7 linked regions of the Homo sapiens genome follow. The protein of the gene in region 4 purifies or fractionates together with the protein of the main gene of each other region. This does not show direct contact. Each region holds a gene or a part of one and is shown on either strand. Other genes may lie near its edges.

Region 1 (3,824 bases), on a different chromosome or scaffold from region 4:
TTACATAGATCTGTTACCTTTGGTCCACTTCCAGCAAGGAATTTGGTGAAAGATGAGGTGAACTAACTTGCCCAAGTGCACACAGAGTGGCGAGACCCACATGTGACCCCAGGTCAATCTGACTGGAATCATGCTATCAGAGCAGCATGGACTGCAGTTCCCAATGCCCGCAGCATGCCACCTCTGCAAGCGCCATGATGGCTACTGCAGTGGGGAATGCTGGGAAAGGGCCCCAACGACAGCTGCTGAGGCAAAATCACATGCTGGACTGGAAACCTGCATCCCCTCAGCTTCCTTTTCTTCTCCCCCTATTCCCAGGGCCTGTTAGTGATTAGCCCTTCCCCTTGAGGGGCCCATGTGAAGTTCCTTCAACCATCCTGACGCTCCACTTCCAGACACCAGCTGGTGTGGGCTTCCACCTGGCCTCTCTGGCTGGACCCAGCCTGTAACTGCCAACACTTACCAAATCTGCCCCTGGAGCAAAGTCGGTGAAGAAGGGCAGATGGCATCCTCAGGCTAGGGCCACGGGCACAATTGTGAGCTCCAGCCTCCTGTGTTACAAGCTAAAAGAGGCTCCCCAGTCTGAAGAGATGAGCATGCTCAGACATTGGACTGCTTGGCAGGCCTCAGTAGTGGGCACAGGTTGGCAGGGAGCAAATGGAGCAGCCCAAACAGAGGAAACGCGGAGGAGGAGAGGCCCAGACAGACGGTGCTGTAACCCAGACAGCTCATCTCAGGGGCCCAAGGAGAATATTCTGATGTGCAGAGTTGGAAATCTGGATTTGTATGTGCAGTATCTTGATTCTGAATGCACTGGGCAGGCTGAACCAAACATCTTTGGTTTAAATTGGGCTCAAAGAGCCATTAGTTTGGCACCTCTCCTCCCACCCTCACAAAACAACAAAACAAGCAGAAAGAAGCATGAGCAGGAAAGGGCTGTCCTGGGGAACTACACTGGGGGTGGGGTGGGGGGAGAGGTTAAAATAAAGCACAAACCCAGATTCCAAAGTTCTGTATTTTTCAAAATAAAGATCACACATTGTTTAGAGACAATCTACACAAGAGTTACAAAAAATAGTTGCCCAGGCATAAGCATACACAGGTTTGTTAATTATACACATATGGTTACAAGTGTGCTTGCAAAAAAGTTCATTGGAAATATACACAAGGCTCTGGAAATGTACACCGTGTAGTGTTACAATTCTATATTCAAACAAGGAAAATTGACAGTATGTTACATTCACTTACAAGTAGACAAAATGCAAAATACAGTTCATCTTCTGTACAAAAGGGAAGGGCGATTCACACTTTACAAGGTGAGAGGGGCTCTGATTGTAAGGAAAGCTCGGGCAAGGCTAGACTTTTGCACGTCCTTTTGACTGTCACAAAATCAAAACATTACTTTTTTAGGATTAAAAAAACACTAGTGAGAACTCAATCTTGAATAACATTTAGAAAGAATCTCGCTATACTTGAGACTAGATGACAAATAAAACCAAGCTATTTTTTTCTTTTTAAACATTAACTAGGCTGTATAAAGAACATTTATTCCTTCAAAAGAAAAAAATTTACTTCTGGTTGAAATTACAATTTACAATATACAACACTATATGCTACGACCATAAAAGGTGAGAATATACACTGAATGCACAGGGCTGGCTAATTCTCTTTTCTTACCAAAAAACGTGTTTATGTTGATTCAAACTTCTCCACATTTACATTACAGGTATACAAATGTACAATTGTACAATCAAAAGTATGTTCGACTACTAGGGTACATTATAGATACAGATTAGACATCAAAACAAGAAAATACTACAAATTTGTATATATGCAAAGTCTACACCAAGTATACACTATATATTTATAGAAGCAAGACCAAAAGCAGAGTTGGATTTTTTTTTCTCATGCTAAATAATCAGATTTTACCTTTCAATGTTAATAGAAAAAAATCCAGTAGGCAGTAAACAATCACACCCGCCCAGCCTCAAAAGACGTTCTGGGTGCTCGCATCTCCTCCTCACGAACAGCCTTCTTCAGCATAATATAGTCTCCAAAAAAGGCATTTTTTAGAATTTCATAAACTTAATGTCACAAACTGAAGCTTTAGCAACTCTGAAACCTTTTTCATTATATATATATATATATATATATATATTTTTTATAAACAGTGTTAAATGCCAGTTTGGGGTCATTTAACTACAATTCAAACTTCTCAGGTTTTTTTGTTTTTGTTTGTTTTTTACTAAAATGAGGAGGTGGGGAAGAGCTATTTGCAAAACTTGCCGGCCAGGCAAATGAGCTAAAAACCTTTTCCTTTTTTTCTTTTTTTTTTAAAGCTTTTTTTTTTTGTTAAACCAACCACCCTGAAAGTTTCCACATGTGAAATATAGATACAACAGTGAACAAAATATGTGGCCTCCCATGTACATTGGTTACCTATGTACAAGTATCCTATACACCAGTAAAACAGCAGGGCAATTAGTCAATTAAAAAAAATAGTACATGTTATGTGTAATAAAATTAAATTTACAAAGGCTTTTCCACTCGTGGATTTGATTCCTTTTTTGGAGGAGGGAGTAATCCTGGAGCAACCACTTGCCCGTCTCAGACTCTACACTAGAACATTTCTGGTTGCTGGTTGGATTTGCCAGTGGGCCAGTGAGGTCAGCGGGAATGAGGGAACAGCGGGTGACACTGCCTCAGATGATACCATTAGGGGGGCCACAGATGGGCCCTAAGTCAACACCGTTCTTCATGTAGTACTTCTCCAGCTTGGCCAGAATGTGCTTGCCATAGGTGTACTTACGAAGAGTTGCGATGTGGGGCCGGATCTGGGGAGGAAAGACAGTCTGTGTTACATGGCCTGAGATGAGACTTGGGGGCAGGCTTCCCGGACATGCATTTGCATGTCATGCATCACACACACATACACACACACACACACACACACACACACACACACACACACACACACCCCTACAGCAATACCTTTCACTGGCTCAGCCCAGTCCCCTGACTTCTAGCACTTTGGCAACCCATCAGATGAGGAGAGGAGCTCCTACCCTGAGTGGTGCCACAGGGCCTGAGGACCCTGGAGGCTGGGTGGCCATGGGCCACTCCCAGGACAACACATGGAGAAAGTGCATCCTAGCTGGGAAAATACACTGCCCACTACCCGCCAGCTGCACAGTGCTTCCCTGCAAGCATGAGCACAGGCCCCTCTGGCCCCATGCACGGCATCCAGGCTCTCCTGAGCAGTGGGGGTTATTTCGGGTCACCAGAATCCTGAGCTCACCACTTGACCCTGTCTCTCCAGGTCACAGTGGATCACAGAAAGCTAATCAATGACAAGAAGAGAAATGATGAACATCATGAGCTGGTGTGATTATCCCCATCTTACTGACAGAAAACATGAAGGCACAGAGTAGTTAAGTCACTCAGCCAAGGTTGAATGGCTAACAAAGGACAGCACAGATAGCTGAGCCCAAACTGTGTGGCTCCTCCACGAATCAGGTTTCTCCCCACTGTGCTCTCAAGGCACGCCCGCCACACCAGCCTCATCCCTCAGGCTCTCCGACCTATGCTCTGAGTCACTTCTCCAAGCATTCCTTTCTGTTCTTCCTTCCCTGGGCTGATCATTTCAAGAAGTCCTACATTCCAGAAAACTTGAGAGGTGCTTCTTCTCTGGAAGCCCCTTTTCTTTTCTGTGAGCTCAGGGAGCATTCTACATACCTCAGCTGTGTCTGCTATCTTTTGCTTAATTATCAATCTTTCCATATAAACAGTAAAGGACCACAGTTTATTCATCAGATTCCCCATCC
Region 2 (4,468 bases), on a different chromosome or scaffold from region 4:
AGGTTGAGTGTCATTTCTGGCTTACTAGCCATTTGGATTTCTTCTGATACACACTTCATCTCATTTGCCTAATTTTGTCGTTGTCTTCTTATTGCTTTCTAAGGGCTCTCTGTATACTATGGATATTAGTCCTTGGTTAATGACACTGCAAATACTTACAATTTTTTTTAATTTTTAATTTTCGTGGGCACATAGTTTATTGAGAATTTTTTTTTTTTTGAGATGGCAGGGGTCTCATATGTTCCCCAGACTAGAGTGCAGTGGCTATTCACAGGCGCCGTCTAGCGCACTACAACCTTAAACTCCTGGGCTCAAGCAATTCTCCTGCCTCAGCCTTGGGAGTAGCTGGGATTACAAGTGCCCGCCACCACGCCTGGTCTGCCAATACTTTCTATCAGTCTGTCATGTTTACTGTCTTTTCCTCCATACAGAAGTTTTTCCTTCTCAGTTGGGTCAAGTCCATTGACCTTTCTGTTACAGCTTGAGTTTTGTGTCTTACGTAGAAAAGGTGCCCCTGCTCTCACTTTCTGCACAGCTATCAGGTCCAGCTCATAGCAGTTCTTCTATTTATCCATCCACTGCCCCAGGAGCTGCCTGGGCATTCACTGCCCCGCACCCCTCTCCAGCCCCAAGGTAGAGCTCGGGCCCTGGGAGTCCCAGGACCATCCCGGACTGGGGAGCTGCTTGGTGTCCAGCCCCGGGCTCAAGCTCTTCTCCAGCTCTGCAGCTACCTGAGGGGTAGCAGCCCGGATAGCATCCTGGATGTTGGTTAGGTCCCACTGGGTCCTCAGGAGGGCACTGTCTAGCGTGAAGAAGCCGTCGCGCGTGCGCCGCACTTGGGTGCAGACAGCAGTGGTCTTTAGTTCCAGGCCGATTTCATGAACCAACTTCCGCAGCTCTTTCTGCGTCTCATGCATGCACTGCACCTCTGCCAGGGACACACAATGACAGACATGGTGGTGAGAGCACAGCCTCTAGTGTGTGGTTGTGAACGCACACCCCTTGGATACCTCCTAGGTGTGTAACAACCTTAGCAAGACCCCTAAGCTCTCCAGGTTGTGCTATTCAGAGGACCTGCCCTGTGGGTGCCACCTGAAATGTGTTAAGACTTGCAGAACCTCAGGCCCCACCGGGACCTGCCAAGTCAGAATCTGCCCTTTTTTGGCAACAGGGTCTCATTCCATCACCCAGGCTGGAGTGCAGTGGTGTGATAACAGATCACTGCAGCCTTGACCTCCTAGGCTCACATGATCCACCTGCCTCAGCCTCCGGAGTAGCTGGGACGTTCTGAGCCATCACAACTGGCTAATTTTTTATTTTTTGTAGAGACAGGGTCTCGCCATCTTGCCCAGGTTAGAACCTGCCTTTTACTAAGACTCGGTTTCCCTATCTGTAAAATGGGAGTTATGAGGAGTAAAAGAAATCATTTATAGAAAGATAAATGATTATCTTTAAAATGTTATTAAGATGTTATCTTAATAACAGAGTTCTGTGCTCAAGCAGAGGAGCAGGCATTAACATGACCAACAGAAAAAAGGGGCGGGCGCAGGCAGAGACAAAAGGAACACAGATAAGAGGGGCCTGAGCTGGGTGGGACTGGGGACGTAAGAGTTGTGTCTGATGGAGCCCTCACAGCTTCAAACATGGGCAGCTCTGGAAATAAGCCACTAAATATAACCTTTGCTTGGTAAGGTCTGGCTTCCAAGGGTGACTTGGCAAGAGATAGGAGAGCTTTTGTTCTGCGAGCTCTGTCATCAGCCAAGTCCAGGCCAGGGCTGGGAAGGAAGTCGGCACCTGATGCCTTGGCCCGCAGAGATCAGGGCCGGCGTGTGCTGGCCTCAGCTGAGCCAGACAACAGTGACCTCTGCAAGAGCGTTCCTGAGTGACTCCCAAACCTACGGGTCCCATCTCACTGCTCCAACTTCCTTGGCCAACCTACCTAAGAGGAATTCCGGAGGTGCAAAGTAGAGGCATCGGATGCCAGTTATCAGCATCGGGGACTTGTTCATGGGCCGGATCAGGCCTCTCACGGCCATCTCATAGGCCTCCTGGGTCTTCAGGTCGAGGTTGGAGTACCTGCAGATCAGGAAGGGGGCTGCAGCTGGGTGGCCCACCTACCCTTTCCCCCACATGAGGTGCCTCTCTGGAAGCTCCTCACTTGCTTTGTGTGCCCTGCCACCGTGGCTCCTCCAGCCACCTTTCCTGCCCTCCTTCATCACCAGGTGCCTGGTAGAGTCAGGAAACCCAGGCAAGCTGGCTCCAGAGCCCAAGCTCTTAACTCCTTGGCTGCTCTTGCCCTTGGGCTCTGTGCTCCAATGATGTGGTCCCTGGTTTCCTTGCCATTAGATCATATACTCTCAGCAGGACAGCTTGGTTCTCTTGCTCTTCTTGGCCTCCCGTTGGCCAACCCAAGACCTGGCACACAGAACCATTTCTTAATGCCAAGAAAGAAACAGGTAGCTCCCGTCTGGTTCTGGGCTCTAAAAACAAGATCCATGGAATCTGCCCCAGGTTTGGGGGAGCCTACGGGAGCCAAGGGCACTTACTGCTCTCCCAGTACCTCCCTGAGGGCCCTACTCACATCACCAGGGCCTTCTGATGGGAGCCTTGGATAACGGCCAGAATGCGGTCCAGCTTCTCTCTGGTCACGTGGTCTGGAAAAGGCAGGGGGTTGTCAATGTACAGGTACCTGCTGAGTATTGGTCACAGCAAACTCCTTCCCCCCAGGCCAGCCCCATCCCTGGAACATGGAGAGAGGATGTTTTGGAGGGATCCCCATGGCGGGGTGGTTGGGAGTCCTTTGAGATTCTCATGAAAGCACTGGACCTCAGAAAGATACTGGATCTCAGAAAGATACACATGACTCAGCAGCAAGGGCACTCTATTTTTTTTTTTTTTTTTTTTTTGAGACGGAGTCTCGCTCTGTCACCCAGACTGGAGTGCAGTGGCGCAATCTTGGCTCACTGCAAGCTCCGCCTCCCAGGTTCATGCCATTCTCCTGCCTCAGCCTCTCGAGTAGCTGGGACTACAGGCGCCCACCACCACGTCCGGCTAATTTTTTAAATTTTTAGTAGCAAGGGGGTTTCACCGTGTTAGCCAGGATGGTCTCGATCTCCTGACCTCGTGATCCGCCCGCCTCGGCCTCCCAAAGTGCTGAGATTACAGGTGTGAGCCACTGCACCCAGACTTTTTTTTTTTTTTTTTTTTGAGACGGAGTCTTGTTCTGTTGCCCAGGCTGGAGTGCAAATGGCACAATCTCAGCTCACTACAAGCTCCGCCTCCTGGAGTCAAGCAATTCTCCTGCCTCAGCCTCCTGAAAAGCTAGGATTAAAGGTACACGCCAAGACACCCGGCTAGTTTTTGTATTTTTAGTAGAGACGGGGTTTCACCATGTTGGCCAGGCTGGTCTCGAACTCCTGACATCAGGCAATCCACCTGCCTTGGCCTCCCAAAGTGCTGGGATTACAGGCGTGAGCCACCGAACCTGGCCTTTTTTTTTTTGAGATGGAATCTCGCTCTGTTGCCCAGGCTGGAGTGCAGTGGTGAGATCTCAGCAAACTGCAAACTTCACCTCCTAGGTTCAAACGATTCTCCTGCCTCAGCCTCCCGAGTACCTGGGATTATAGGCGTGCACTACCATGCCCGGCTAATTTTTTGTATTATTATTATTTTTTTTTTTTTTTTTTGAGACGGAGTCTCGCTTTGTTGCCAGGCTGGAGTGCAGTGGTGCAATCTCAGCTCACTGCAACCTCCGCCTCCCAGGTTCAAGCGATTCTCCTGCCTCAGCCTCCTGAGTAGCTGGGACTACAGGTGCCTGCCACCACGCCCGGCTAATTTTTGTATTTTTACTAGAGACGGGTTTTACCATATCAGCCAGGCTGGTCTCAAACTCCTGACCTTGTGATCCACCCATCTCGACCTCCCAAAGTGCTGGGATTACAGGCGTGAGCCACTGCGCCCGGCCTCTTTTTAAAATTTAGAACAGTAGCCAGGCGTGGTGACTCACACCTGTAATCCCAGCACTTTGGGAGGCCGAGGTGGGCAGAATACCTGAGGTCAGGAGTTCCAGACCAGACTGGCCAACAGGGTGAAACCCAATTTCTACTAAAAATACAAAACATTAGCTGGGTGTGGTGGTGTGCACCTGTAATCTCAGCTACTCCGAAGGCTGAGGCAGGAGAATTGCTTGAACCTGGGAGGTGGAGGTTGCAGTAAGCCAAGATCGCGCCACTGCACTCCAGCCTGGGCGACAGAGCGAGACATCGTTTCAAAAAAAAAAAAAGAAAAGAAAAGGAAAGGCTGGGCGCGGTGGCTCATGCCTGTAATCCCAGCACTTTGGGAGGCCAAGGAGGGCGGATCATGAGGTCAGGAGATCCAGACCATCTTGGCTAACATGGTGAAACCCCGTCTCCCATCTCTACTAAAAATACAAAAAAAAAAAAGCCGGGCGTGGTGGCGGGCGCCTGTA
Region 3 (4,468 bases), on a different chromosome or scaffold from region 4:
ATCTCTGCTCACTGCAACCTCTGCCTCCTGGGTTCTGGCACTTTCCTGCCTCAGCCTTCCGAGTAGCTGGGACTACAGGCGCCCGCCACCACACGCGGCTAATTTTTTGTATTTTTAGTACAGATGGGGTTTCACCATGTTGGCCAGGATGGTCTCGATCTCCTGACATCATGATCCACCCGCCTCGGCCTCCCAAAGTGCTGGGACCACAGGCGTGAGCCACCGTACCTGGTCAAGATTTGTTTTTTAAGAGATGGGGTCTTGCTATGTTGCTCCAGCTAGACTTGAACTCCTGGGTTCAAGCGATCTTTCCAATGTAGTCCCCTGCGTAGCTGGGACTACAGGTGCATGCCACTGCCACCCAGCCATATATATTGCTTTTAAACACAGAAGTACAACTTTTGAATGACTAACTCAATATTCCGAATTAAATACACTGAAAGACTCATCAGTGAAAAATATTTTTTCTATTTTCATATGTTTGCTGAAGGATCTAAGCTAACAATATTTATTTTAAGCAAAATATGAACTTTTAAACTCACAAAAATCCTGACTTTCTTTTCCTATACTTATGGTATTCAACAGAATCAAGAAAGTTCTTGTGCCAAGTGTGGTCATGGGATCAGTGAATGGCAAATTTCCCTTTTTTTGAAAAAAGGAGGATAAATATTTGAAGAGTAATATTACATATAAAAAAGAACCTTCAGATTGTTAAGTGGACAGCTACAACAGAAAAGACAAAAAGCTTCTATCTTCATAGGAAGTGGTTTCCTCAGTTCTCACAATCTTAATAATCTTAATTTCTAGGTACAGTAATAGCTCTCAGTTTCCTACTCTTCAGATATGGGCCTCTCAGTAGTCCCAGCTCCTACTGGACTAGCCTAAGTCACTGATTACTGGTTTCTATTTGCTCTTTCTCTCTGTTCTTGATTACCTGTTATAGTCCAGAGAAAGTTTTCAAATAATAAAAAACCTATGTGTATAAGAGAACATATAAACATACAGAAAAGACACATTCATCAGGTAGGGAAAAATCCTGTAACAACATCTACTCTCCTATTTCTAATACCTTTACGGAATATGATGAACCTGATCAAGAAAAAAACCAAAAAGAGAAAAAAACCTTTAGAACCAGTTTTACTATACTGAATTTATCATTTTTTTTTCTGAAATGTAATTAAAATCCTTTTTAATGAAGGATTACTTTATATCTTCATTAATTACTCAGGTAAAATGATAAAAAGCTGCCCAAATCCATCATTTCCTCATATACTGAGACTCTTAAGATATTTATTTAGTGACCATAATTGTTTTAAGTGTATCACTTTTATCCAAATAATGAAGTTTGTTATTTTTGAAGAGTATGTTAAAATAATGTTAGAGTCGGAAGATCATCAAGTGCAATTCCCTCATTTTAGAGATGAGGAAATTGAGGCCTTGAAGGGTCACATGATTTCTCCAAGGTAACAAAACTGACTAGTAGTAAACAGGACTTAGAACCGAGACCCCTTGGCCCCAGGCGAGGTTTTACCTACCGGTCTGGCTGTACTGTATCCAGCAGGTCCTGGGCCTGCAAGTCCTGCTTGAGGTGAAGGCTGACTGCGTCCTGGAACAAAGACATCATATCATATATTTAAGTTTAAAAAAATAAACAAGAAACCATGTACTTATATTCCAAGTGTCTATTTCACGGTCCAGTTTTAAGGGTGAATAGCTACATTCAAGTGTTTTTACCTATATTATCTTTCCTTGTTGTTCCAGGGCTTTTGGGTGCTTTGAAGCAAGAAGGGAAAAAAAAATTAGTTGTAAGTTAACAATTAAGCAATATTGCATAACATCAGCTTGCTGTTCTGCTTCATTACCAGCAGAAATGGGGGCATGAGATGGTAACAAAACAAAGCACTTTGCTTTGTATAATGATGAAGGGTATTATCAGTCCTGAATGAAATACTCCAAAAGAGAGAAAAATTACAATATTTAGATAGACCTTTATGGGAGACAAGTGGTGACTTTAGTTTGATATCTCACTCATGGGACCACTTTTAGGGTGGCATTCCCCATAGAACTCTCTCGTGAACCTTGAAAACATACAGTCAGCTGTGTGAATGGTCACAAGATGCGGCACTGCTGCCCCTTAGAGTCTGGCAGACAAGTGGCTTCTGAGCAACAGACAGGACTGCATTTGTCAAATTACACAAGAGGCTCCTAGTAGCAATACTTTAGGGCTTCACGCTGTAGATGTCACTGTGGATAAGGTTATCTTATGATGAGATCTTTCGGATTTCTATAACAAAATCCCATCATTAAGACAGAAGACAGGCATATGTTATTACCAAATATCTGCCTTATGGAAGACAGTGTTAAAAATATGTTCAAACTCATTAGAAAGGTAGCTGAAGGATAAAATGAAATAAATTACTCTTGGAGCCAAAAGGAGTAGGAGTGACTATCAAGGGCAGCATCTTAAATAAACTCTCCTTTTTGTAAAGAAATTCAAGTACAATTGTTATAAGAAATACATCAGCCTTTTAATAACTAAAATCATAACAAATGGCCTCTAGTCTTAAAGGTCTTTTAAACAAATCTGGCTCAGTGCTAATCTATAAAATAGCTATGTTATCTGAAATCAACTACAAAATACTATATTCTTGGATCTGAATTAATAGGGTTTAATTATAATCATTAATTTTTAAAACTTCAGATTAGTAAAGTACATTTCTAAATATTTTACTTATTCTGAAAAGAATTTTGAAGACATTCTTAAACAGTAATTTCACAACCTGGGCATATATAAACTATATATGAAACAGAGTACAAACAACATTAAGGATCTCAGGGAAATTAAATGGATATCCATTAGAAACTATAGGTGACATAGAATGAAGAGAGGAAAAAATACAAGGTATACATAAGGAGGGGAAAGAGAAGTTTACAGCTGGACCAAGAAAAGATTTAGTATGCCTGCAAACACTGCGGGGTGGGGAGGTGGGGCGCTGACACTGAGAAATAAAATGAGAGAACCACTTCTATAATGCAAGAGTCTTGTTACCTTCCATCTCTCTCCTAGCTACCCCAGGACTGGGAGGGGCTCCAATACCTTTTTAGAGAAAGAACAGAAACTATATATTGTTCAGGGCCCACAGCACAGAATGAAAGGCAGGCACACAAGACAATTTCCATAGTAAACTCACTTTTGCAAAAAGGCTCTTTTATTGCTTTAAATTTCTTCAAAGATATCAATACAAACCAAAGTGACTTTAGATGCTTGGCCCAAATCTGAATCCTCCCTTTACTCAAACAGAAGAGTAGAAACAGGATGACAGTTTTCTTTTTATGTATGCAATTACTACCAGTAGGGAATTTAAAAAATATGTTTAATGAAGACCTTTGCTTTAAAAATCATCTTACTCCTTATATCCAGAGCAAGTAAAAACTCTGATATTTGATAGTCAAAAGGAAAGAAATCATAAATTTCTATGAGACTACGTAAGTCTTTTGAAGTTAGTTTTTGATGCATTAATTTTAAAAACTCTAATGTACTATAATGACGTAAAGGAATTATTGTTTATAGGATGAAAAAACATGTTGCAAACACTACTTACAAAAGAATTATGAAGGGGAGCAATTTTTAAAATTAAGACAGATTTCACTGTAATCCACTGGCTTGCCTAACTTTTGACAGATTCATTTTAAATTTATTTTCTACAGGATGTTTTCCTAATTAAAGCAGAAGATAAGCAAAAATTATCATGGAAATTTAAATAAAAGCAGGAGCTTGAAAAGGGAAAAATTAAATGTTTTCTATAAAAGCAGGAGCTTGAAAAGGGAAAAATTAAATGTTTTCTGTAGGTCAATGGAGAAATGATCACTTAGCTGTATTCGGCAGAAGCTGTAATGCTGAAATAATTTAGCTATTCTTATCACACGCAGTCATTAAGATCTACACACAGGCAAAGTCAGTCTGTAGTAAGACCTGAATTGCTCAGCCATGTCACTAGGCAAGCTACAATAGAAACAGACCAGGCTACACATGCACAGTGAGCCTTAGTAACACTGGATTTGTAAAAGTTCTTCTGAGGAATTGTGAAAACTCATCTCATCTTTTCTTGAGATTTAGATTAAATAAACTTGTCAAATGTATAACTCCAACTGAGCTCTGTGAGTTTTCATGTAAACCAAATAAACTATACTTCAAACAAAAAGTGACCCTTTGTGAATAAAAATTTCCTTATGAAGAAAGGAAAAGAAAATCATACAGTTCTTTGCTAATCCAAAAGCTTTTCCACTAGAAAATAAATGTATCACTAATCAGATACTTGGGAAATGTTCTGTATTTACTGTACCTGAATGACTTTTAAAATTAATATAACTTTTGGGTATTAAATCTTTGTAAATGAATCGACCACATTTATTAAAAAAAAAATTAGGCCTGATGAACAATCCCAGCCTACCTGGGAAATGAAAGCCT
Region 4 (4,468 bases):
CACACAATTGATTTCACAGTAATTAAAAATCAGTGTTTTTCCTTAAACATGGCCTCTAGATACATGCCAGCTGCCTCAACTCATACTTAACTGATGGAATATGATCTGTCTCAGAGACAGAGAGAGGAACAGACTGTGTCAACTTAGAGAAACCAAATATACTGATCTCCAAAGGGACAGCTTCTTAAGCTGTGACCTTAAAAAATTGTGACCATACACAATTTTCAGCCAATGTGATGGTTTCCATCACCTCCCACCTAAGAGATGACACCATTAATGTATACAAATTGTTGTAGAAGCTTAGAGAAAGAACCAACTAATGGGGAAGTTGGAGAAAATGTCTCAGCAGCGGGGATATTCGAGCTGAGTTTTGAAGGATAAAGAGCAGTTTCCAAATGAGGAAGAAGTGGGCAAGGACAAGCTAAGTAAAGTTGCCTGAACTGTTGACGGCCACCACTGGCTCTAGAAAAGCCCCTGCTACTTCCTTCTGTCTACTTGAAAGTGCAACATAAGATGTTTTCAGAACAAACAGGAGTATGAATGGGAAGACTGTGGTTCAGTATTTCCCAAAGTGTTTGCCATGGAACTAGTTCTGTGAGATGCTTCATTGAAAAGAGATTCTGAATAAAATAAAACATTCATTTAACAAAATATTTGGTGCACCTCATGAGCCATAGAATGCCTGGTAGTAAATGCTGGTATGGTCTCCCTATATGTTAATACATCTTCAAAATAAACAATTCAGCATATGTGAAATGGTGAATTAAAATAATTATTTCTTCCTGGATTTTTATAAAGGAATTAGCTCTAATTTCTGTTACAAAATTTGCAAATCAGAGTTCCAAAATTGTGCTCAAAGGAACTTAGGAACTTCTAGCCTAAGATTACTTTTTAAAACTATAATCAAATAGTAATTATAATTTATAATAATTTTAATTTATAATTATAATGATAATTATAACAATTAATAACTCAGAGGCTGGGTGAGGTGGCTCATGCCTGTAATCCTAGCACTTTGGGAGGTTGAGGTAGGAGGATGGCTTGAGGCCAGGAGTTCGAGACCAGCCTGGGCAACATGGCGAAACCTTGTCTCTGCAAAAGATACAAAACTTAGCCAGCCATGGCGGTGCGTACTCCTGTAGTTCCAGCTACTCAAGAGGCTGAGGTGCAAGGATCACCTGAGCCTGGGAATTCAAAGCTGCAGTGAGCTGGGATCATACCACTGCACTCCAGCCTGGGCAATGGAAGTGAGACCTTGTCTCAAACAAAACAAAACAAAACAAAACAAAACAAAACAAAACAAACCCCCAAACTCAGGCACTATTCTAAGTGCCTTATTTGTATGACAGTATTGAATCATCACAGCCACCAGTAGAGTTGGTACTATGATTATATGGAGTTGTGTGGAAGTGTTAAATGACCTGCACAAAGTGACACAGCTTTTAAGCAATGCAATGTGTGACTCTGGAGCCTGCACTTTTAGCCTTACGTTAACTTGCTTCTTACAACCCTAAACAATGAGTGTCTCATCAGTGACATTTTACAACCAGGGAGAGGAGCTCCAGAACTGGAAAGACTGTGGTTCACAGCAAGACACAAGTCACCTTTTCCACATGTGTGGACGTAGGTTTAATAACCAGTGCAAAAAGGGAGAGGAAATGGCAGGGAAGGCAACATGTGAGAGAGACCTTTCCATGTGCTACAGGACGGCCCAACACCTGGGTTCAGGCTGCCCACTCCAACACCAAGTTTTGCACATAGACATGCACTGGCTTACGGCCTGGAATCAAGAGTAGGTCCCCAAACCCATGGCTTCTCTTTTCATTCATGTGATGTCCCTTTTATGATAGCATTCACCACACTATAAGGACAAAGCATGCAGAGATCAGGCATCTGATCTCCCAATCCCAATTCTACTCCCGGCCAGCAATTCTGTCTCCTTGCTGGGCCTTAATTTTCTTATCTGTAAAATGAGAATATATGGGGAAGCACTTGGTTTTGCTTTCCATGGTTTCAGTTACCCGCGGTCAACTGAAGTCTGAAAATATTAAACTGAAAATTTCAGAAATGAATAACTCATAAGTTTTAAATTGTGCACCCTTCTGAGTAGCTCCATGAAATCTCATGTCATCCCTCTCCATCCTGCCCGGGACACCAATCATCCCTTTGTCCAGGAAAACGACACTGTCTGTGCTCCATGCCCATGTCACTTAATAGCCATCTGGGTTATCAGATTGACCGTCAAGGAACCCTTATTTTACTTAATATCAGCCCCAAAGTGCAAGAGTAGTAATGCTGGCAATTTGGATATGCCAACGAGGAGCACTAAAGGCCTTCCTGTAAATGAAAAGGGGAAAGTTCTCTACTTAATAAGGAAAGAAAAAAAATCCTATGCTGAGGTTGCTAAGAACTACAGTAAGAAAGAAATTTTCTATCTGTGAAATTGTGAAGAAGGAAAAAAAAATTCGTTCATAGTATATTATTAGTTTGGTAATATCTGTGTTTCAGGCATCCACTGGGGGTCTTGGAATGTATCCCCCAAGGATAAGGGGGGACCAGTATACAATTGCATTAATACAGCATCATCAAAGAGCAGGAATAAAGAAAAATGCAATGATGGTAGTGGGAGAAACATTTACCCATCCCTAAAAAGTGCCTCTAGCAGGAGAATCGCTTGAACCCTGGAAGCGGAAGTTGCAGTGAGCTGAGATCCCGCCACTGCACTCCAGCTTGGGTGACAAAGTGAGACTCCATCTCAAAAAAAAAAAAAAAAAAAAAAAAAAAAAGTGCCTCTAATTCAGGTGAAGAGTCCCTGCAGTCTTCCCTCCTGTCAAGGAGGAGCAGTTATCCTTGCTCTAACTATACCAAGAGGTGTTGTTAAATTGGCTAAATAGGAACACCCCTGAGCGCCTACAAGGTAGGGGAGGATGATCGAAGGTAGGGGAGGATAAGCAAAGACTGCAAATAAGAACCCTGATGGTGGCCGGGCGCGGTGGCTCACGCCTGTAATCCCAGCACTTTGGGAGGCTGAGGAGGGCGGATCATGAAGTCAGGAGATCAAGACCATCCTGGCTAACAGGTGAAACCCCGTCTCCACTAAAAAAATACAAAAAATTAGCCAGGCATGGTGGCACGTGCCTGTAGTCCTAGCTACTCAGGAGGCTGAGGCCGGAGAATCGCCTGAACCTGGGAGGCGGAGGTTGCAGTAAGCCGAGATCACGCCACTACACTCCAGCCTGGGCGACAGAGCGAGACACCGTCGCAAAAAACAAACAAACAAACAAACAAACAAACAAACAAAAAAAGACAAAAACAAACAAAAAAAAAACCCTGATGGCAACAGCCAGTGCGGACTGATAGGAGACAGAAATAGTCAGGACATGATTATGGTGCCTGGAATTTGGACCTGACCAGAACTCACAGTGCACATGAAAGACAAGTGTTCATGAATTTCTTACTAAAGGAGAATTAGAAATTATTATCAGAATTCCACTAAGTACTGCTGCTACGCTATAGTAAATATTTACCGTCAGTCCACAAGTATTATAACTATACTTAGTTGTTATTCTACAGTGTCATTTACAACCAATTCCTCTTTTTGTCTTTCAGAGATCCCAAGTTAAAGAATACTTAATGACATACTGAAAGATAAATAAGCTTCAATTAGTCTGCCCTTTCTGAATAATGCAGTCAAGACTAGTGTTCAGAGTGGGCAAAAGCAAGTAAACAGCATCCTACTGTGGAGGGTCACAGGCCTGGCTCTGTTTCAGAATCATTGAGGAGCTGTGCAAAATATCAATTCTAGGACTCCAGCCCAGTTTGACCGAATTGGAATCTTCAGGGATTAGAGTCTAAGAATCTCTGTTTTTTAAAAAATGTAGGCAACGGCTCATGCCTGTAATCCCAGCACTTGGGGAGCTTGAGGTGGGAGGATCGCTTGAGCCCAGGAGTTCAATACCAGCTTGGGCAACATAGCAAGACTTTGTCCCTACAAATAAAAAAGTTAGCCGGGCATGGTGGTGCGTGTTTGTGGTCCCAACTACTTGGGAGGCTGAGGTGGGAGGATTGCTTGAACCAGGGAGGTTGAGGTTGCAGTGAGCCATGCACTCCAGCCTGGGTGACAGAGTGAGACTGTCTCAAAAAAATCAAAAATCAAAAATCAAAAAAAGTGGCCTGGATAATTCTTTTTCAATTGGATAAGGGATCCTGGGCCTGAGTACTTGTGATCGGTATTCATGATTCACTGCCTCACAGAAAACAGCTTTAACAAGATTTTCTTCTGTTAAATGGATGTCCTCCCTATGTCCTATAAGGTGAAGATACAAAGAAACAGGACACAGTCTTTGGTCTGTAGGAGCTTCATTTTCCTTGGGAGATAGAACACACTGGCAGCCATAGGCCAAGTAATGATGTAGTAATCAGGAGTACAAGAGAGAAAATTTCATGGCCGGGCGCGGTGGCTCACGCC
Region 5 (4,468 bases), on a different chromosome or scaffold from region 4:
TTAATAGTCAAAAAGTGGAAACAACCCAAATGTCCACCAACTGATGAATGTTTAAACCAAATGTGGTATATCCACACAATGGAATATTATTCAACCAAAAATGGCATGTAGTACACATGCTAGAACACAGATGAACTCTGAAAACTTTATGCTAAGTGAAAGAAACTAGACAGAAAAGTCCATGAAGTGTCCAGAATATCCATATAGAAGTATAGACGTATCCATATTGACAGAAAACAGTTTAGTGGCTGGGAGGGGAAAATGGGGACATGCTTTCTTTTTGGTGTGATGAAAATACTGTGGACTTTGATAGTGGAGGTAAAGGAATTCAAGAAAACAATTTTCATCAGAAAGGAATAAATAAGCATGGAAATAAATAAGCATGGGAAAATCACTGATTTTAATAGGTTGTGAAATATGTTCCTATATATTTTAAACAATCTTTGAATTTATCTGCCCCAAATAGCATGGGTATAGTTAGAGTTCTACTGGGAGTCTACCAATAAAGAATAGCAACTTAATTAGTCAGCACCATAAAGATCCTTCCTTTAACATTAACACATTTATATTACCTTTTATGGGTACATACCTGTCTGGCTGATCCACTAGCCTGCCTTACTTTTTCTGCTACTCCTCCTAAAAGCTGTACAAGTTTCGTCTGTTTTAGAAGTTCTTCTCTAAGTCGTTTTCCTCCTACTGACAGGAGAGCACCCAAAACATGTTCGTATCGGGTACTAAACTGTACATCATGCAGGGCATCTTTGAGAAGCCTAATACAGCAAAATATTTATGTTAGTCACGTCTTGGTTTTTTTTTTTTTTTTTTTTTTTTGAGACGGAGCCTCACTCGTCACCCAGGCTGGAGTGCAGTGGCGCCATCTCGGCTCACTGCAAGCTCTGCCTCCCGGGTTCACGCCATTCTCCTGCCTCAGCCTCCCGAATAGCTGGGACTATAGGCGCCCGCCACCACACCCGGCTAATTTTTTGTATTTTTAGTAGAGATGGGGTTTCACTGTGTTAGCCAGGATGGTCTCGATCTCCTGACCTTGTGATCCGCCCACTTCGGCCTCCCAAAGTGCTGGGATTACAGGCGTGAGCCACCATGCCCGGCCATGTTAGTCACTTCTAAGAACTAGGTGAACCTCTCTGAAAAATAACAAGTTCAATTTTTTTTTCTTTTTTTTTTTTTGAGACCAGGTCTGGCTCTGTTGCCCAGGCTGGAGTCCAGTGGCATGACCTTGCCTCACTGCAACCTCCACCTCCCAGGCTCGAGCAATCCTCCCACCTCAGCATCCCAACTAGCTGGGACCACAGGCACATGCCACCATGTTCGGCTAATTTTTTATATTTTTGGTAGAGATGAGGTTTCACCATGATTGTTAGGCTGGTCTTAAACTCCTGAGATCAAGCGATCCACTAGCTTCAGCCTCCCAAAGTGCTGGGATTACAAGCATGAGCCACCACGCTTGGCCTCAATTTTTGATAACCAGAAATGTATTTTAAGCTATATAAGCAAGTCGAAACCCATTCATTATTACAGAGCTATAAGACACCAAATTTTTGCAATGAGGGTTTTCAAATTTTTGCATTAGAGGGTAAATTTAGCTCCTTTAAAATAATACCTTCAATAAAATATCTTGTATCCACAATAAGTAGTGTGGCATACCATTTAGACTTACAGGGTATGCCATTTCTATAAATTCTAGGAATGGAAATACGGTAATCAATAAAATTTAAATCTTACCAATATAAATTGTGTGCTATCTGGATATTTCCCAATGCCCTGGACAAAAGGAATTGCACTAATGAACTATTCAAGTAAATTTCATATTTCAAAGCCTACAGTAAAAGAAAATAAGAATTATTAGTGGTCTAACCCATACTAAATTGTTCCAATAAAACTATCAAAAGAGAAACTATATAAAGCAAGTATTACTCTTACTGATGAAAGATGATACTTATAAAAATTAAATAGATGAATTAACCTATGCCAAACTAATTTAAATCAAACACAAAAGTATAGAGTAACATTCATTAGCTATGTTGAACTCACCAGTAAAGAAAAATCAAGGAAAAGCTCAAGTCTGGTTTGTTCTAAAAAGTCTGAAAACTAAAAATACAGGTGCCTATATACAATATTCAAATGGGGCAGATGACAATAGTGGGGAAAAAATTCACACTAAATCCAAATGCAATGCCCCTCAATGTTCCCACACTAAAAAACGACTTTTAATCTAAACAGAATGGGGATCCCTTAGCAAGTTCCCATAAAAAACTAGAGTGAAAGTATAAAGGGAGGTAATCTAGTAAAAAACTCACTTGTACAAACTGTGGAAGAAGATCTGTTAGCTCATCATCACTAATGGCCTCAATCCAGGTCACAGCTAGGGATCTTACTTCCTGATCAGCAAATCTAGAAGATTACCATAAAACCAAGATTGGACAGTGATTTCTTTCCAGTGAAGCTGTATTTTTTGAAAACACAATCTCAATCTGGTCCTGACAAAGAACACTAAGATATCTCTTTTATTCAAAAGCAATGTATTTCTTCTTTTTGTAAGAAGACAATCTTATTGTGCTATACAGATTCAATTTAGGGATTATTTAGGAATCTTAAGTTTATGAAAATTAATTCTGGCCCACATCATAAAAATATAAATTATTCAAAATTTACAACCTAACCCTTCCTTTAGGCTAGTTTTAAAGGACATGCAATGCTTTATTGACAACTTCAATGCAGAAGATATGTTTGTATAAATATACATTTACACATTTGGATTATATTGAATTGCTTTCATGTTAAAAGGAAAGGAAATACTTCTGGCAACATACCTTACTGGAAAAACTGACAATAAAACAAGAGCAAATAAATGTATTTGACTTACTTTGAATCAAGAAGTTCCAATGCAATTAGTGGGTACAATGCAGGCCACTGGTGAAGCAATGAGTAAGTTTTGGCAAGATTAACCCATTTCCAGTTTGGGGCGCTTGCTAATATTTTAGGAAGACAATTTGGGTGTTTGAAGCAATAATAACGTTTCTCCCATAAAAAAGCTTTATCTTCTTTAGAAAGTCTGCATATATAATAGAATTAAATTACTTCTCAGTGATAACATAATGATATAATCTCAATGATTAAAAATACAAAGAAGAAATTTATTTATTTGGGACAGCTACTTCTTCATAAAATCATTAATACTAATTTGGAATAGAAAAATGCAATGTATGGCAAATGCCAGTAATTAATGCTAATCCGGGAACTGAAAGGAATGATTATGTCTTGATAAAAGATGCTTAGTTAGGAAAATGAAGGATAATTCAGTATAATAAAAATTTATTGAGCTCTAACTAGATGCCAGGCACTAGAAATCAGAGTTGAAAAAGCAGATCCCACCCTAAGAGATAGCAAGGATTTCATCCATTTCGTACAAATAAAATCAAATGCTATGAAAAAAAAAATACTACTATAAAATTTTGGAACATATTTATACAGTTCAAATGAAAAGGACTTGTTTTGAAGATCCTAATTGTTTTAAGCTTAATCACAAATGTTTACGTGAATGAAATATTTCACCATTTTACTATCCATCCATATATATATAAATATATATATACATATACATGCACTGAAATTTATTCATTTCATGTGGAGTAATGAAAAAATTCAAACACTGCAAAAGGTATACAGTGAAATCTCTCTCCTTCTAATTCCCCTTCTAAGAGGCAACCACCTAAGCTTGTATGCTCTTCTAGAGAGTTTATTCATACAGAGGCACACACACGGATATATGTAGATCCTCTTTTTTCCTTTATTTTCGTGGTAATACACTATATACACTATTCTACTCCTGGTTTTCTTCAGCTAACCTATTTTAAAAATTAGTACATACAGCTATAATCTCATTTTTATTTATTTTATTTTTGTTTGAGATGGAGTCTCGCTCTGTCACCCAGGCTGGAATGCAGTGGCACGATCTTGGCTCACTGCAACCTCCGCCTCCCAGGTTCAAGCGATTCTCCTGCCTCAGCCTCCCAAGTAGCTGGGATTACAGGCATGTGCCACCATCTCAGCCTCCCAAAGTGCTGAGATTACAGGTGTGAGCCACCACGTTCAGCCTACAATCTCATTTTTAATAGTTACATGGTTCTCTACCAGATAAATGTACCTTAATTTAATCCCTATTGATGGACATTTCCAATCAATTTTTCTTTTCTTTTCTTTTCTTTTCTTTTTTGAGACAGGGTATTGCTCTGTTGCCCAGGCTGCAGTGCAGTGATGAGATCATAGATCACTGCAGCCTTGACCTCCTGGGCTCAAGCAATTCTCCCACCTCAGCCTCCTGAGTCGCTAGGACTACAGATGCACAACACTGTGCCTGGCTACTTTTAATTTTTTTGTAGAGACAGGGTCTCACTATATTGTCAGTGTTGGTCTCCAACTCCTGGGCTCAAGCAATCCTCCCACCTCA
Region 6 (4,468 bases), on a different chromosome or scaffold from region 4:
TGTGGGGAATTCTGTGTATGAACAGGCAGGCAAGAGAAAGGAGATGAGAGGTAATCACTGTGGGAAAATAGATAAGGGAGTATAGAATTCCATAGACCCAAAGTTCAAGGTCAATTCTGCAGTCTCCTCACAAGCCCCAGGCCAGAGGTCTCCAAAGTGGGTGACAGTGAGCAGGTATGTGGAGAAAAATTCAGCACTTAAAAAGGAAGTAGTAATTTTAGTTAGAGATTGCAATACTTCTTTAACAGTGAACTTCATCTGTTTATATATATAAACTATTTCTAGAATATTCTAATGTCTCCTTCCTTTCATCTGCAGATGGAGAAACTGAAGCCTTGAGGTATGAACAGGCTTCCCAAGGTCACCTTGCCATTAGTGCAGCAGACTTGTGTAGACTAACTCCATATTTGGGCCATGCATCTGCTCCCTCTCCCTTCCTTCTTCTGAGGACCTAAGGGGCTTACATACATGATAGTGGGGACATACTCAGGGAAAAGACACCAAAAACGCAGCCCCAGAAATTTAGATGGAGCAAAAAGAAGAGCCAAGAATCAAGAAGCCAGAAACATCGCTGCCAGATGCTGCATGATCCCTTAAGAAAAATGTCACCGAGGAACTCACACAGTAGGGCGCCCTAAAGGGTGGTTCCCCACAGGAAATGGAAACAAGCCAAATCAACCTTTCTGTAGCCACTACTGGTAACTTCAACTCACACTATGATCCTGAACTACCCAGATTTCCTGCTGGCCCCTCAGAGCTAGAGTGCTGTGCCCATGTGTTATCCCCTTCAAGCACCCTAGCTCAGAGTGCTAGAACCAAGGCAAGGGACAAGGCCTCACCCACCTTGGGCCGTGCTGGGGATGGCCGAGGCCTCTTCTTCACTTCAATCCAGTTCTCAGAATCCAGGTCAGGCAGGCTGGCAGACAGGCCCTTGGGTAGTGTCTTTAGGTTGCTGACCTCCTCTGTTTTGGTTGGCACTGGGGTGACTGCACGAGGAGAGCCAGGTGCCGACTCTAAAGGGTGGAAAGGGGAAGTCCTCATCCCTCCAGTCCTCCTCCTGATGCCAGCCCTGAGGAGGACTGTTGCCCAGAGGACAAGGGCAATCTTCATGCCAGCAGGTACCTACCTGTCTCCTTTTGGTAGTGCTGACGGGGAACAAATTCAGGGCAGTTGAGAAGCTGGGAGAAATCAGTCTGTGAATAATCCACTATTGGGGGAAGAGGCCACTTTTCTGGTTCCTCCCTCCTACGAACTTTCTCATCAACGATCTCCACCACCTTGCTGTCCTTTAGGGCCTGAAGGGGAGGAGAAGGAAGAGGGGATTAAGAAGAAAATCTTGGACAGAAAGATCTTGGAAATGGTAGACAACTGGGTTCCCCTGAGCTTGGTATGAGTCCAATGCTACCAGTAATATAAGAAAATTGACACCATCTTCCACGACTGGTAGATAATGTGAGATGTTCAAACTTGTAGGAGGTACCAGCATAATAAATACACCTACCCTTTTACTCTTTGAGCCTGCAATCCTACTTCCAGTAATCTGCTCTAGAGAACACTTGCACAAACAGGGAGCAGTATGTATAATATCTGGACAAAAAGCCATTCACAGTAAAACTAGAGTAGAAAAAGAACTATAAAATACCTAACTTGCCATCGCATAGGCAATTTAAATATTTACAGCATATGCATGATGGAACACTACTCAGACATTAAAAAACTTTACAGGTCGGGCCTGGTGGCTCACGTCTATAATCCTAGCACTTTGGGAGCCCCAGGCAGGCAGATCACAAGGTCAAGAGATTGAGACCATCCTGGCCAACATGGTGAAACCCCATCTCTACTAAAAATACAAAAATTAGCTGGTTGTGGTGGCACACGCCTATAGTCCCAGCTATTCGAGAGGTTAAGCAGGAGAATCGCTTGAACCCAGGAGGTGGAGGTTGTGGTGAGCCGAGATGGTGCCACTGCACTCCAGCCTGGGCGACAGGGCGAGACTCCGTCTCAAACAAACAAACAAACAAACAAACAAAAAAACAACCAACTTTACATGTGCTGAGGTGGATAAACCCACAAAATATTAATCAAAAAAGCAGGCTGGGTACAGTGGCTCACACCTGTAATCCCAACATTTTGGGAGGTCAAGGTGGGTAGATCGCTTGAGCAAAGGAGTTCAAGACCAGCCTGAGCAAAATAGCGAGACTCTATCACTACAAATCGTAAAAAGGTGGCGCTGGCATACATCTGTGGTCCCAGCTACTTGGGAGCCTAGATGGTTGAGGTTGCAGTGAGCTTTGATAACACCACTGTACTAACTCCAGCCTGGGCAAAAGAGCAAGACCTAGTCTCAAAAAAACAACCAAAACATCCATCTATAGGAGCAGCAGTTGAAAAAACATGGAGCATTCCACACAATGGTGAACTATGCAACTGTACACAGGAATGAGGAATATCTTTCTATTATATACTGCTACTTTGCAGTTAGCTCCCAGATATATTAAGTTAAAACAAAAAAGAATTGAAGAAATGCCATGTGTTGTATATTTCCATTTACCAAGGATACAAATACATGTAGAGGCATTTGCTTTTTTCTTAAATGGAAAGGTTCTAAAAAGTTTGCCTGTAAGAGAAGAAAGGGTGTAAGTGACAGAATTTAAGTCAGACTTCTATGACTATACCATGCTGAGACTCTAGAACCACGTAAATGTTTTACACAAATGTAAAACAACTTAGAAAATTATAGGGGTAGGGAGAAAGCAATCTCTAAAACTTGGAAGCAAAATAAAACTAATATATATATCAATTTAAATGTGAAACCACACAAAGATTCTTTCAAATGACTTGAAGATACTGTATAAGTGGAAAAACTGTTTTCAGTGGTAGTGGAGGTATTGTAAGAATGTAGAGCTTGGCACAATGGCTCACGCCTGTAATCCCAACACTTTGGAAGCCGAAGTGAGAGGATGGCTCAAGCCCAGGAATTTCAGACCAGCCTGGGCAACACTGCAAGACCTCATCTCTACAAAAAATTTAAAAATTAGCCACACGTGGTGTGCACCTGTAATCCTGCTACTCAGGAGGCTGAGGCAAGAGGATTGCCTGATTTCAGGCGGTTGAGGCTGCAGTAAGCCATGATCACACCACTGCAATCTAGCCTGTGAGAGCAAGACCCTCTCTCTTTAAAAAATGTTTAAAAAAAAAAAAAAAAGACGGTAGACATACTGTGAAATAAAACAAAATGAGTAATTATGTTGGTATCATTAGGAATTAAGATTATGGGCATGGAAGAAAGCAGTAGGTAAAATAAAAGATCCACAAGTCTACGTAAAGACCCTTTAATAGAAAATACCAGAACAGGCCGGGCGCGGTAGCTCATGCCTGTAATCCCACCACTTTGGGAGGCCGAGGTGGGTGGATCACCTGAGGTCAGGAGTTCGAGACCAACCTGGCCAACATGGTGAAACCCCATCTCTACTAGAAATACAAAATTAGCTGGGTGTGGTGGTGCATGCCTGTAATACCAGCTACTTGGAAGGCTGAGGCAGGAGAATTGCTTAAACCTGGGAGGTGGAGGTTGCAGTGAGCTGAGACCATGCCACTGCACTCCAGCCTGGGCAACAAGAGTGAAACTCTGTCTCAAAAAAAAAAAAAAAAAAAAAAAAAAAAACAACAACAACAAAACAGAATAACTCCATGATGTATTTTATCTCACCAAAAAACAAAAAAATCATCTAGAAAGAATGACCAACCAAGTAGCAATAAAGCACCCCTATAACTCAGACTGGTATCTAAATACCATTTCCCAAAAGAAAGGAACTAGAATTCCTTTTAAAAGTGGCCAATTCCAGATCTGGGGCAGGAAATGTATAGGGTCCCACTGACCAAAGGTGGGACAATTTGATCCAATCCATTAACTGCAATGGACCAAAATAAATACGTTTGAGCCCATAAGCTTATAATAACAAATGATACGAAAACAAACCACCAAATCTCACTGGTCACCTATGAAACCTATTAGAGATCAACTCATAATTATGCAAACTGGCTAACAAAGGGAGGAAGATCAAACATTAATCTGCCCTTCCTGAACAAACTATACCTCTTGGTAACTGAACAGTTGATGAGGCAAAGTTACTTCTTGAAGAGGTATTCCACCTAATAAATGAAGACCGACTGACAGAATTAGTATATTGTCATTTTGCAATCCTAACGAACACTGCTGGCAGCTTATAGCACAAGAGAGACAATCAAATGAAATGTTATGTGCCACCTGAGAGAAAATACATCATTATGATAAAGTATTCTTGACAAGGAGGGGAAAAAACTTCAAAACCTGAATCTGATCAGGCCTCTAGATCACAATTTACAAAAAACTTGGAGTACAGATGAACATGTTAAAATGACATCCCTGTGCCCTGTGGAAAATCCTACAGGATGTACAACTTAGTCTATTCAAATAATAAACGGCAAA
Region 7 (3,500 bases), on a different chromosome or scaffold from region 4:
ATATCAAGAGGTACCTGAGTACAGGGCGGAATGTGGAAATGGAGGTTGGATGCCCATAAGGGGAGGGGTCCACAATAAAAATGATATGTGATAATGATCCCACGTGTGTAAACTTATGTAGGTGTGATATAAGCATGCCTGCAAAAAGAGATAAATGAACCGGGTGCAGTAGCTCACGCCTGTAATCCCAGCACTTTGGGAGGTCAAGGCAGGTGATCACCTGAGGTTAGGAATTCAAGACCAGCCTGACCAATATGGTGAAACCTCGTCTCTACTAAAAATACAAAAATTAGCCAGGCATGGTGGTTCACGCCTGTAATCCCACCTACGTGGGAGGCTGAGGCAGGAGAATTGCTTGAACCCGAGAGGTGGAGGTTGCAGTGTGCTGAGATCGTGCCACTGCACTCCAGCCTAAGTGACAGAGAGAGATTTAAAAAAAAAAAAAAAAAAAGAGATAAATGAAAAGGTGATCACCAAAAGTTTTTTTTTTTTTTTTTTTTTTTGAGACGGAGTCTCACTCTGTCGCCCAGGCTGGAGTGCAGTGGTACAATCTCGGCTCACTGCAAGCTCCGCCTCCCGGGTTCAGGCCATTCTCCTGCCTCAGCCTCCTGAGTAGCTGGGACTACAGGCGCCCGCCACCACGCCCAGCTAATTTTTTGTATTTTTAGTAGAGATGGGGTTTCACCGTGTTAGCCAGGATGGTCTCGATCTCCTGACCTCGTGATCCGCCCACCTCTGCCTCCCAAAGTGCTGGGATTACAGGCGTGAGCCACCGCGCCCGGCCCAAAAGTATTTTTAAAACATTTAAACAAGTATCTAACATAAAACATTAAAGCCCTTAATTCCCTTGCTTCCAACTACTTGCTTGATTAGGAGCAATTAATTAAACCCACTATTTGATGTATGTTTTTCCTGATTTTTTTCTATGCATATAAAACACAATAATGAGATGATACATGCTACACATACTATTCTGCAGCAGGCGTCTTCCCACCATGGATCTTCTCCCATAACAATGCTTTACAGAACCACCATGACCTTTTGAATGGCTACAAAAGATAGCATGTATGAATGCATCATGGTGTGTTTTTTTCTCTAGTGATAGACAAGCTGCCTGAAATTTCTGGCTACTCCTAATGTTACAATAACTATCCTTGCACACAAACCCTTGTACTTGTAGGCAAGTCTAATGGGATAAATTCCTTAAAGTACAACACCTGGGTCAAAGAGAATGAACCTTTACAACTTTGATAAGTTCTGCCAAATTGTCCTTTAAACAGGTTGTACAAATTTATGTTCTCACTAACAAGAGTTAGAAAATGCCCTTTTCCCAAAGCTCTAACATCAGAAATTTTCAATGTTTTAAATTTTTGACAATTTGATTACAAAAACTCCTATCTTTTTAAACTGTGCATTTCTCTGATCACCAATATAGTCAAGGATCTTTCCTTCTTTTATTAGTCATTTATATTTCTTCTGTGAGCTGCCTGATCATACCCCTTGCTCAATTTTCTAGGTTCCAGTTAACTGTTCTCCCTACCTCTGGCTTCATACCCCTACACTAGGCCACCCCCTATATCTGCAGAATTGTCATCAAACACAAATCTGATCTTGTTCCCTCAATTTACAACTCCATAGTCCACAAAATTAAGTCTTTAATATGGCACCTTCCAAGATCCTCCATAGTAACAACGATAATGCAAATACAATAACATCAACAGAAAACGTTTCCTGAATGCATTATCTCATTCAATCCTCAAAACAACCCTTTGAGGTAGTAATTATTATCATCCCATTTTAGAGAAAAAGAAATTGAGGTACACATCCTCAACCACACTTGGCCTCTTGTCAATCCATCCTTATTTCAGCCATTCCCAACTACTTGTATCACTGTGCCCCTCTGCAGACTTCTGTGCTGTGGACATCCTTAGCCTGCACTGCCCTGCCTTAGGCCGCCCCTGCTGTTTGTTGGGTGAACAATGGCTAATCTTTTTAGACCCAGTTCAGGAAAGGCCAAAAGCTAGAGGAATGGTATTTCAGCACATATGATCAGATTTGGAAGTGATCTTAAAGAGACATCTAGTTTCACAATCTATAGACTATGGATTCCAACTCCCATTAGCGGGTCAAAGCCAGGGTTTTTATAAAATTGAAATAAAATAGAATAAAAAATATCAGAGAGCAGGGAGTGAAACTATGTATTGTTTCAAGGGCAGGCATTGTTTTGTGAAGGTTGTGTATGCCAGGTCCCAAAGTAAAATGTGTTTTTTACTGTGGGTAGAGGTCCAACCACCAAGCCACTCTCCACGCCAGAAGCCAGAATGATCTTTCTAAATCTGATTACGTCAGACTCTTACTTTGAAATTTTCTGTGTTTTCCTATTTCCATTAAGATTAAAGACAAAACAAAACACCTCACAATGCCTACCCAGGGCCCTGCTGGTCTCCCGTTCTTCTGAGGTCATCCCAAGCCTTTGAAGGTGCTGTTCCTGCCTGTACACTCTACCCTTGCCCTTTACACCTTCTAAGTCCCATTAATCCTTCAAGATTCTACTCAAATATCACTTTCCCCAAGAAACCTCTGCCTAAGTTTCTTGATCTAGTCTAGGTTGCTAGACTAGGACAGATCTCCAAATTATATACTCTCAATGCATACTGGACTTTTCTGTACAAGCACTCATCACAACCGTAATTAAATAATTATCTAACTGCTGCCTCCTTCCTTAGTTAGTTGGGTTCCTTTTGTATATTTCTAGCAACTCACTTTTGCTTTGCCATTCATAGGAAGCACTCAGCCAGTACTTGTAGAAGAATGAGTCTCCTGTCCAAAGCAAGAATCATCTTCTCTCAGAAACCTTTTCGTGACATCAGTCCTTACCCCATACAATGGACTCCTAATCATCATCGCACTAATGAGGGGTACCACTTAACAAAGCCAGTGTAATATGCTAGCCACACAAATGCTTTGCCTAGGACAACTCATTTTGGTCTCTCACAACCCCGAGAGAAAGGTACTATTTTACATACTCTTACAGTTGGGGAAATGGAAAATTTAGAGAGTTGTTCAAAGTTAAATGCAACCACTAAATGGCAGGGCTATCTAAACACCATTACTAGCACCTATACTACTGTATTGCATTTGTTTGTCTACACATATCTGCTGCTCTTTACTAGATTATATTCTTTGGAGGCAAGGACCAAGGCACAGGCACACAGTAGAGCCTCATTAACTATATTTGCTAAATGAATAAAGGTAGGTGGGAAAAGGCAAGAGTTCAGAGCAGAGCACTTTATAACATCATAAAATAACCTAGCTGGAGAGACCTATCCCCTCTCAGTGTAGGAATCTCCTAGAATTCCTAAAGAGTGTGACTTGCTATACCCCCCGCTATATGGCCCATTCTCTTGTTAGTTAACTCTAGTTGCTAGTTCACTTAGATTCTGCAAGCATTTATTGAGCATCTACTACATACAAAGCTCTATGCTGGGGACTGCAGACAG

The links.
Region 1: the proteins of RBM47 (region 4) and PUM1 purify together in Homo sapiens (affinity purification with mass spectrometry; one large-scale study listed by BioGRID and IntAct). This does not show direct contact.
Region 2: the proteins of RBM47 (region 4) and TRUB2 purify together in Homo sapiens (affinity purification with mass spectrometry; one large-scale study listed by BioGRID and IntAct). This does not show direct contact.
Region 3: the proteins of RBM47 (region 4) and SYNJ1 purify together in Homo sapiens (affinity purification with mass spectrometry; one large-scale study listed by BioGRID and IntAct). This does not show direct contact.
Region 5: the proteins of RBM47 (region 4) and PIK3C2A purify together in Homo sapiens (affinity purification with mass spectrometry; one large-scale study listed by BioGRID and IntAct). This does not show direct contact.
Region 6: the proteins of RBM47 (region 4) and LARP1 purify together in Homo sapiens (affinity purification with mass spectrometry; one large-scale study listed by BioGRID and IntAct). This does not show direct contact.
Region 7: the proteins of RBM47 (region 4) and MOV10 purify together in Homo sapiens (affinity purification with mass spectrometry; one large-scale study listed by BioGRID and IntAct). This does not show direct contact.

What each region holds. Positions count from the first base shown.
Region 1 is NC_000001.11:30,930,509-30,934,332, forward strand, and holds the end of PUM1 (pumilio homolog 1), read right to left. Parts: intron 2,835-3,824; coding exon 2,703-2,834; 3' UTR 998-2,702; downstream 1-997. UniProt on the Homo sapiens protein: Sequence-specific RNA-binding protein that acts as a post-transcriptional repressor by binding the 3'-UTR of mRNA targets.
Region 2 is NC_000009.12:128,308,948-128,313,415, forward strand, and holds part of TRUB2 (pseudouridylate synthase TRUB2, mitochondrial), read right to left. Parts: intron 2,655-4,468; coding exon 2,582-2,654; intron 2,077-2,581; coding exon 1,940-2,076; intron 929-1,939; coding exon 603-928; 3' UTR 1-602. UniProt on the Homo sapiens protein: Minor enzyme contributing to the isomerization of uridine to pseudouridine (pseudouridylation) of specific mitochondrial mRNAs (mt-mRNAs) such as COXI and COXIII mt-mRNAs.
Region 3 is NC_000021.9:32,640,361-32,644,828, forward strand, and holds part of SYNJ1 (synaptojanin-1), read right to left. Parts: intron 3,098-4,468; coding exon 3,050-3,097; intron 1,774-3,049; coding exon 1,735-1,773; intron 1,607-1,734; coding exon 1,536-1,606; intron 1-1,535. UniProt on the Homo sapiens protein: Phosphatase that acts on various phosphoinositides, including phosphatidylinositol 4-phosphate, phosphatidylinositol (4,5)-bisphosphate and phosphatidylinositol (3,4,5)-trisphosphate. Has a role in clathrin-mediated endocytosis.
Region 4 is NC_000004.12:40,426,932-40,431,399, forward strand, and holds part of RBM47 (RNA-binding protein 47), read right to left. Parts: intron 652-4,468; exon of another isoform or gene 1-651. UniProt on the Homo sapiens protein: Single-stranded RNA-binding protein that functions in a variety of RNA processes, including alternative splicing, RNA stabilization, and RNA editing. Functions as an enzyme-substrate adapter for the cytidine deaminase APOBEC1.
Region 5 is NC_000011.10:17,116,902-17,121,369, forward strand, and holds part of PIK3C2A (phosphatidylinositol 4-phosphate 3-kinase C2 domain-containing subunit alpha), read right to left. Parts: intron 3,074-4,468; coding exon 2,885-3,073; intron 2,413-2,884; coding exon 2,319-2,412; intron 1,839-2,318; coding exon 1,744-1,838; intron 771-1,743; coding exon 590-770; intron 1-589.
Region 6 is NC_000005.10:154,796,418-154,800,885, reverse strand, and holds part of LARP1 (la-related protein 1), read right to left. Parts: intron 1,296-4,468; coding exon 1,127-1,295; intron 1,014-1,126; coding exon 844-1,013; intron 1-843. UniProt on the Homo sapiens protein: RNA-binding protein that regulates the translation of specific target mRNA species downstream of the mTORC1 complex, in function of growth signals and nutrient availability.
Region 7 is NC_000001.11:112,677,659-112,681,158, reverse strand, and holds part of MOV10 (helicase MOV-10), read right to left. Parts: intron 1-3,500.